2 linked regions of the Homo sapiens genome follow. The protein of the gene in region 2 interacts with the protein of the main gene of each other region in a biochemical or structural test. Each region holds a gene or a part of one and is shown on either strand. Other genes may lie near its edges. The genes, in order: GNPAT and AGPS.

The links.
Region 1: the proteins of AGPS (region 2) and GNPAT form a complex in vitro, tested with the Homo sapiens proteins (one study listed by BioGRID).

What each region holds. Positions count from the first base shown.
Region 1 is NC_000001.11:231,272,065-231,275,987, forward strand, and holds part of GNPAT (dihydroxyacetone phosphate acyltransferase), read left to right. Parts: intron 1-247; coding exon 248-327; intron 328-1,857; coding exon 1,858-1,998; intron 1,999-3,156; coding exon 3,157-3,256; intron 3,257-3,340; coding exon 3,341-3,434; intron 3,435-3,923. UniProt on the Homo sapiens protein: Dihydroxyacetonephosphate acyltransferase catalyzing the first step in the biosynthesis of plasmalogens, a subset of phospholipids that differ from other glycerolipids by having an alkyl chain attached through a vinyl ether linkage at the sn-1 position of the glycerol backbone, and which unique physical properties have an impact on various aspects of cell signaling and membrane biology.
Region 2 is NC_000002.12:177,493,520-177,497,442, reverse strand, and holds part of AGPS (alkyldihydroxyacetonephosphate synthase, peroxisomal precursor), read right to left. Parts: intron 1-3,923. UniProt on the Homo sapiens protein: Catalyzes the exchange of the acyl chain in acyl-dihydroxyacetonephosphate (acyl-DHAP) for a long chain fatty alcohol, yielding the first ether linked intermediate, i.e. alkyl-dihydroxyacetonephosphate (alkyl-DHAP), in the pathway of ether lipid biosynthesis.

The sequences.
Region 1 (3,923 bases), on a different chromosome or scaffold from region 2:
ACTCCAGCCTGGGTGACAGAGCGAGACTCCATCTCAAAAAACAAAAAACAAACTATGCTAGACCGTAGTTTGCTCTGTGGGTAAGATTTGGGTTTAATTTAGCTTCCCTCAGGGGACTTAATTCTTGTCCCTGTTACATGAATAAAATATGCCTTTGAAATACATTTTGTGATAGTAAGGACTTCCTGGTACTCCCTTAAAGTTTAAAGGGCAATGTTGTAATTTTACATGATGCATTTATTTCCAGAGGATGTCTACAGTTGCTTTCGCTTCCTACGTGATGTTTTTGCAGATGAGTTCATCTTCCTTCCAGGAAACACACTAAAGGTAAAGTGCTTACAACAAAGAGCAAGTATGTTTGCAGTGTGAGTTCTAGAAATGTTAGGGGTGAATTCACAGATGTGTCTCAGGCAGTGTGCCATCCCTTTCTTCAAGGCAAAGTGGGGCAGACTTCAAGAGAAACTGGGGCGCTCACAGTTCAGCAGACTCTAGTTTGATTCTTGATCAAGTTTAATTAATAACTTAGGGATTATATGGTGAGAGGAGAGTCATTCTTTGAACTATCAGTGTGGCCATTACAACTAAACTAACTTTATTTTAGTAAACGTTTAAAAATCAGCACACAGCCGGGCGCAGTGGCTCATGCCTGTAATCCCAGCACTTTGGGAGGCCGAGGCAGGCGGATCACGAGGTCAAGAGATCGAGACCATCCTGGCCAACATGGTGAAACCCCGTCTGTACTAAAAATACAAAAATTAGCTGGGCGTGGTGGCGCATGCCTGTAGTCCCAGCTACTCAGGAGGCTGAGGCTGAGGCAGGAGAATCACTTGAACCCGGGAGGTGGAGGTTGCTGTGAGCCAAGATTGTGCCACTGCACTCCAGCCTGGTGACAAGAGGAAGACTCCATCTCAAAAAAAAAGAAACCAAACACAACAAAATCAGCACACATTTTCCTGTTAGCAAGTTGTTAGAATGAGTCACCCAGGCAAGTGCCTTTTACTTTGAGAGTAGTGAGTGCTGGTCCTGCCTGGTCTAGACAGCTGAGGGGTCATCAGGCTCGCAGAGCTGGACTGCTGCTGGGTTGAAGTGGGAAGTGACAGTAGATGAGAGGCATGTTAGGTGTTTGTGTGCTTTAAGGATAAGAGGTTTGATTCTGTAGGGAGTGGAACAGGAGTGTTGGAAACTTTTTTTTTTTTTTTTTTTTTGAGGTGGAGTCTGGCTCTGTCGCTCAGGCTAGAGTGCAGTGGCGCAATCTCAGCTCACTGCAAGCTCTGCCTCCCGGGTTCACTCCATTCTCCTGCCTCAGCCTCCCAAGTAGCAGGGACTACAGGCGCCCACCACTACGCCCGGCTAATTTTTTATATTTTTAGTAGAGACGGGGTTTCACTGTGTTAGCCAGGATGGTCTCGATCTCCTGACTTCATGATCCGCCCGCCTCAGCCTCTCAAAGTGCTGGGATTACAGGCGTGAGCCACCGCGCCCAGCCAGAAATTTTTTAACCATAGCATAATTCTAAGTATTTTTAGGACTTGCTGTATGTATTTCCTATTTAAATTAAGGAGTGGTTCTGCAAAGTAAAAGAAAATCCATCACCCAGGTTGTGATTTGTAAGGCTCAGAAATGTTGTGTTTGAAAACATTTTGAATGTAGAGCAGATGCTTCTCTGGCTACTATCTCACAACCAGAATTGTTCTGGAGGTTGGGGAAATAGCTGGTATTCTGTTGTCTGAGGGCATGTGGCTGCATATATTCAGATAGGCAGTGTATCCATTAACCTAGATGAGGGGGTACATGTATTCAGATGGGCACTATACCCATTAACCTAGATGAACATTATGGCTTCCTCTTCCCTTCTAGGACTTTGAAGAAGGCTGTTACCTGCTTTGTAAAAGTGAAGCCATACAAGTGACTACGAAAGACATCCTAGTTACAGAGAAAGGAAATACTGTGTTAGAATTTTTAGTAGGACTCTTTAAACCTTTTGTGGAAAGCTATCAGGTATGTAAATTTGGCAAGTTCTCCTTCATGCCCCCCATATCAAATATAATAAGACATTCTCACCCTGTGCTTATTTCCAGTCTGAAGGGCAGGTATCTTCCCCAGGCAAATGGAAGAAGGAGAGAGAGTGACTAATACGATCAGTGATTTCACCTCACCAGTGAGACCTTGCTCCCCGCATTCAGGAGGAAGCTTGGTTCATTACAGACCCAAGAGGACAACAGCTTAGTGATGCCATGGTCACAGTATTCACAGGACCACAGTTACACCCACGCATCATCTGTCATACTGTGTCTCATGTCTTAATGAGGCCTTCATGTCAGTCAATATGTAACCTCGAGGTTTGATATATATCAGGCACTCAGTAAAGGCAAGACTTGAGTGATACATAAAGTCAGTTACAGATTACCAGATGTTTATGTTGGAAAGAAAAAGTTCAAGTGCAAGTTCTGAAAGCGTTTGTCAGAGCTCTTGGGAGTAGTTAGAGAGATGGGATGGTATGTTGCCCAGCAGGAATTGTGGCAGGACTCAACGGGAGAGAAAGAGTCTGAAACATAAACTGTAGGAAGGACTTCCACATGCTTGAGAGAAGAGGATGCTGTGACTCGGCTCTGTTCATATAATACATGCACTGGCTCTGGGCACCTGGACCCACTTCCTGGTGCTTGTGGTCCGTGAAATAACTCATTCAGCCTCCTTGCACAAAGTCTAGCACTTACTGAGCATTTGATAAATGCTAGTTCTACCCTTAATCACTGTTCTACAGTAGAAATCATCAAGTATTTTAGGGCATGGTACTTTCTTAGGTGTATTTAGAGAAAAAAAGCAAAGTTATTAAAATCTGACCCCTCTCTTCCCAAGTAGCATAAGAGATACGAAGCTGATGGTAATTAACTTGTACCCCTTGAAGTGAGAAATTATACTTTAATAAATGTCATTATTATTTTAAATCTTTTTCTAATTGTAAAATGTAAACTCAAAGGAGATGCCCTAAAAATTCTTTGGTTTTTCTGGGCTCATTCCTTGGAGGGTCTTTATGCTGCTCTCTTGTGATATATCCTTCTCTTAAGAGGGGCAATGTAAAGTTATTTACTATTCTGTTGAACTTGGCTATCCTTTTTCTCTTTCTGTTCCCCTCATCCTTCCTCTTAAAATCAGATAATTTGCAAGTACCTTTTGAGTGAAGAAGAGGACCACTTCAGTGAGGAACAGTACTTGGCTGCAGTCAGAAAATTCACAAGTCAGCTTCTCGATCAAGGTCAGTCACTGCTCTGTGGGTGCTGATTTCTTTTAGTTGAGAATAGAAACTGGTCAACTAACTCTTCCTCACCCCCAATTTTAGGTACCTCTCAATGTTATGATGTATTATCTTCTGATGTGCAGAAAAACGCCTTAGCAGCCTGTGTGAGGCTCGGAGTAGTGGAGAAGAAGAAGATGTAAGTACTGTACAAGATCCCATGAGTGCTCAAGGAACAAGGAAATGAATGACATTTGAGCTCAAAATCCAGAGAGACATAGAAATGGATGATCTAGGAAATGCTATATTCTACTTTCCTTATCCATCCTCTAATTAGTTAAGTCAGTGTGAGTTATCCTGAAAATTGTATGTGGTTATGAATAGAAATGCAACTGAAGCAAAGAAAGGAAGAAATAACTTTAGGCCAATATTTTTGCTTTGACTTAATGTTGAAATTTATAATTACAAGAAAGATTTTCGGGAGTGTAGTGGGCATATGAGTGTAGACACACATAAATACACACATAATACATATATAGATACATACCTGTATATGTATATATAAACATATAGATGTATGTTCTTCTAAGTGGTTGAATTTAACAGTGATAAAGCTTAATAGTAAACTCTGGCAGTCATGTCTCTTATGTGGTCAGAAGAATGAAGCAAGAAGCCAGGAGGTGGGACA
Region 2 (3,923 bases):
TTTTAAGTCAAATCACTATATGTAATTAATACTACACATAGTTTAGGTTTTCTTTCAACGGTATGGTTTACACATAATAAAATTACTTCATTAATTTTTATTTCATTAAGAACACCCATGGTGGCTGGTTTTACTTTTTTTTTTAATTATATAGAAACTATTCAGAACTATCCAAATATGGAGTTAATGCCAAGTTTAAGGTTGTTTCTTAATTAATTGTTAATTCATCCAGAATTCTTGGCATAAAACTAGCAATTGCTTCCTTAATCACACCCGGAGAGTTAAAATTGCCAAAATAACATAAATGGAGTCTCAAAGTCTGTTAAATTAACATCTTTGCCTGCAGATTAAGCTTAATTGAGTGAAAACCTTTTACTGTTTTCTCACTTTTCAGAAAGTAGTAACGACTCAACTCCTATGATTGCTACATTTAAGAGTCATGCATCTGGCCTCAGTGTTAGCAGCCCAATTCAGAAAAAGGTGTCATACCATTTATACAAAATTTTTATAAAGAATTTCAGTCTTAAGTAAGTCAAAATTATCTCCAAATAAAAAGTTTTCTTTTTTAAAAAAGCCTTTAAGGTTTGGGGATTTTGTTTGTTTTTAAAGTGTAGGCCCTTCCTTTCCTTCTTTTAAAATAGGTGCAAAGAGCAAACTAGCTGTTTCTAAAACTATCACTGGTAGTTTTTTTCTATCCATTTTTTATAAGAATCTCAATCTGTAATACTACTTACTACATTTTTGCTGATTATAATAGGAAACTGTGTTACATAAAAGACCAAGTAATAGAAGTCTTAACCAGAGGCTAAGAATTAGATATCTATGCTATACCTGAGGCATTAAAAAACAACAACAAAGAAACAAACTGAACTGCAGGTTAGATAGAGATCAACCTAGCAATCTTTTTGAGCTCCTGGATCACAAGTAAGAGATACGCTTGGGGATTTTTTTCTTTTATTTTAAACTATCAGAGATGCTTCCTAGTATAACTAGCGCTTTAAGAGACAATTTCTAATATCTATAAAGATAGAAATAACGTATCATCAAAACATTCATTTCTGGTCCCAAATGGAACTCATCCTATATTAACAACAATTAGAAATACATATATAAACATTTATATATTGAATGTGCATGTTGTGTTCTTGGCAGAAGTTGAAATTATCTATTCTTTATACAAAAGATTCACTTATCTTTATACAATGCATGCGGACTCCATATGATACTACTCTGATATGAAATAATCCTTAAGGGTAAATGTTCACTTAACTCATCGAGATTTATATGCACAATTTCCATTAATGCTAGTAGAATTACTCACATACATCTGTGATACTAAGGTGACATGATAGCTTTGAAGAATAAATTATTGTAAAAGTGATACTGACTTTTAGGTGGGTCAAGCATTAGTATCAACTAGATAATATTATCTTTTACTTTTTCTTAAATATGTTGCCTAACAATATAATTACATTTTAAATATATTCTAGCTATTGTGGGTTTGTTTTTTTTTTTTTTTTTTTTTGAGACAGAGTCTCACTGTGTCACCCAGGCTGGAGAGTAGTGGTGTGATCTCGGCTCACAGCAACCTCTGCCTCCCCGGTTCAAGCAATTCTCCTGCCTCAGCCTCCCGAGTAGCTGGGACTACAGGTGCTCGCCAACATGCCCAGCTAATTTTTGTATTTTTTTTTTTTTTTAGTAGAGACAGGGTTTCACCATGTTGGCCAGGCTAGTCTCAAACTCCTGACTTCAGGTGATCCGCCTGCCTTGGCCTCCCAAAGTGCTGGGATTACAGGCGTGAGGCACTGCACCCAGCTGCTATTGTGGTTTTTTAAAATATTAAACTCACTTCCAAATTTACTAGCTGGACAGTTTGATCAGTGAATTTTCTGTTATTTCAATGTTAATCGTGTCATTTAACAGGATTTATTAATTATCTATATTTTAAAGCAGTGGTTACAGACAGTGCAAAAACTCCTGGGCTTTGTAGTCAGACAAATCTGGGTTCATCCCTAGCTCTACCACGTATGATTTGTGGACCGTAGTCAAAATAATGAGTCTTTGAGTCATTTGTAAAGTGGGGATACCACTCTGACGAACAGTCATGAATAGAATTTTATAAAGTGTGCTATTGACAATGTAATCAGCACTATGCCATCTAGGATTTGTTCACCCCCTTGCCAATTTGATGATTAATTGAATCAACATATAAATGCCTATTACGTGATAAGTGCAGGTGATAGAAAAATGACTAAGAAACATACCCTAAATTCGAGAAACTTTGGTTTATAGAGGACATCTTTGGATTATTTCAATATACACAATGATATATATCATTTCAATATACTAAAATTAGATAATGTCAATATAATGTATTAAGAGTTGTACCTGAAGTAGAGATTATATTAAAAATATTAACAACTAATAATATGGCATGTGCTTTGTTAACAACCAATGTGGTATAAACACCGACCAATCAGCCATACGGTTAGTGCAGGGTCTGGGGCACCTTTTGTTGTGCTAAGCATTATTTCCTCTTTTGCTTGATCATGAAGCCATGGCAGGATATATTAATGTAAAGGCTTCAATTAAAATTGAGAAATAAAAAAGGTTATATAGACAGCCAAAAAGCATGATCAGATCTGTATTTCAAAAGGATCACTTTGGTGGCTAAGTAAAGGGCAGAGAGAGGGGAGACACAGTAAAGACTAGAGAAGGTAGAACCTATAATACCACAGACAGGAGCAAGCTAGAGGGGAGCAAGTAAGTATGTTTTCAGGTATAGTAATGAGAACATGGAAGAGGGATGACAGGAAGACTTTCTTTAAACCTTCACTTTAAATTGTTATGGACTCCAATTATAAATAAGTATGGCCAAATCATAACTAATTTTACAAATGCCTAGGTCTAACATTGTTTACAACAACAATAACATATAAACGAATAACACAGTCTTATTAATTAGATGCATGGCTCTCTTTAAGACCTAGATCTTTAAATGCAGGCCAAAACACACAAGTGGTTTTTCACTTGATTTAAGTATTTCATTACTTATAGAACATATTTATCTTAAACTTTTGTCAGTAGTATAGTATTTTGAAAGTAATTTACTTAAAGAAATAAACAATTATGACTAACTTAGAAGAATGTAATTTTAAAACTCTTAATATGTTACGAACCTGACTTTAGTTAAGTTTCTATGTAACTATAACCATGCTTCCCTAAATTAAAATCTCAGCTTACTTTTAGACATGACAAAAGCCTGCCTATCTTTGCCTTTAGTATTTATTACTGAACGATCACTCTCATGATTTTAGGAATTGTTTTGAGGGTATTTAAATTCTATAAACTTAAATCCCAAAGTAAATTTCACAATATAACTACAACCCATTATCATATCTTTTTCCCAAGACCACCACCCATTCTTCTATGTTATTTAATCTACCCAATCAAATCAGTCTAGGTGTTGTCTTCAACTCCTCCTTTTATTTAGCCTTCCACATCCAGTTAGCAAACTGATTTTCTGAAAATCTATCATCCGTTCTCTATCTCCATTGCTGCTGCCATGCTCAAAGCCCTCAAACTTTGCTTCTTGAGCTGTTTCATCTCCTAGTGTCTCTCCTCCATGCATGTACCCTTCTAATCTATCCTGCACAATGCTGCCAGAATGAGCTAAGATGTAAAGTTGATTGATTTTATTCTTCAAAGAAATCCCACTGCTGACAAGACAAAATCCAAATCTATCCTGCAAAGCCCTAGCCCACCCAACCAACTTTATCTCATGTAACAACTCTAACCCCACCCTCTATTTGAGCCACATAGAACAATTTGAAGTCCCCTAACACACATCATTGAGTTTCACACCTTCACATTTTTGCTGCCAAGTGAAGAAGTCTGGTTGAGAAGAAGAAGAGACATCTAGG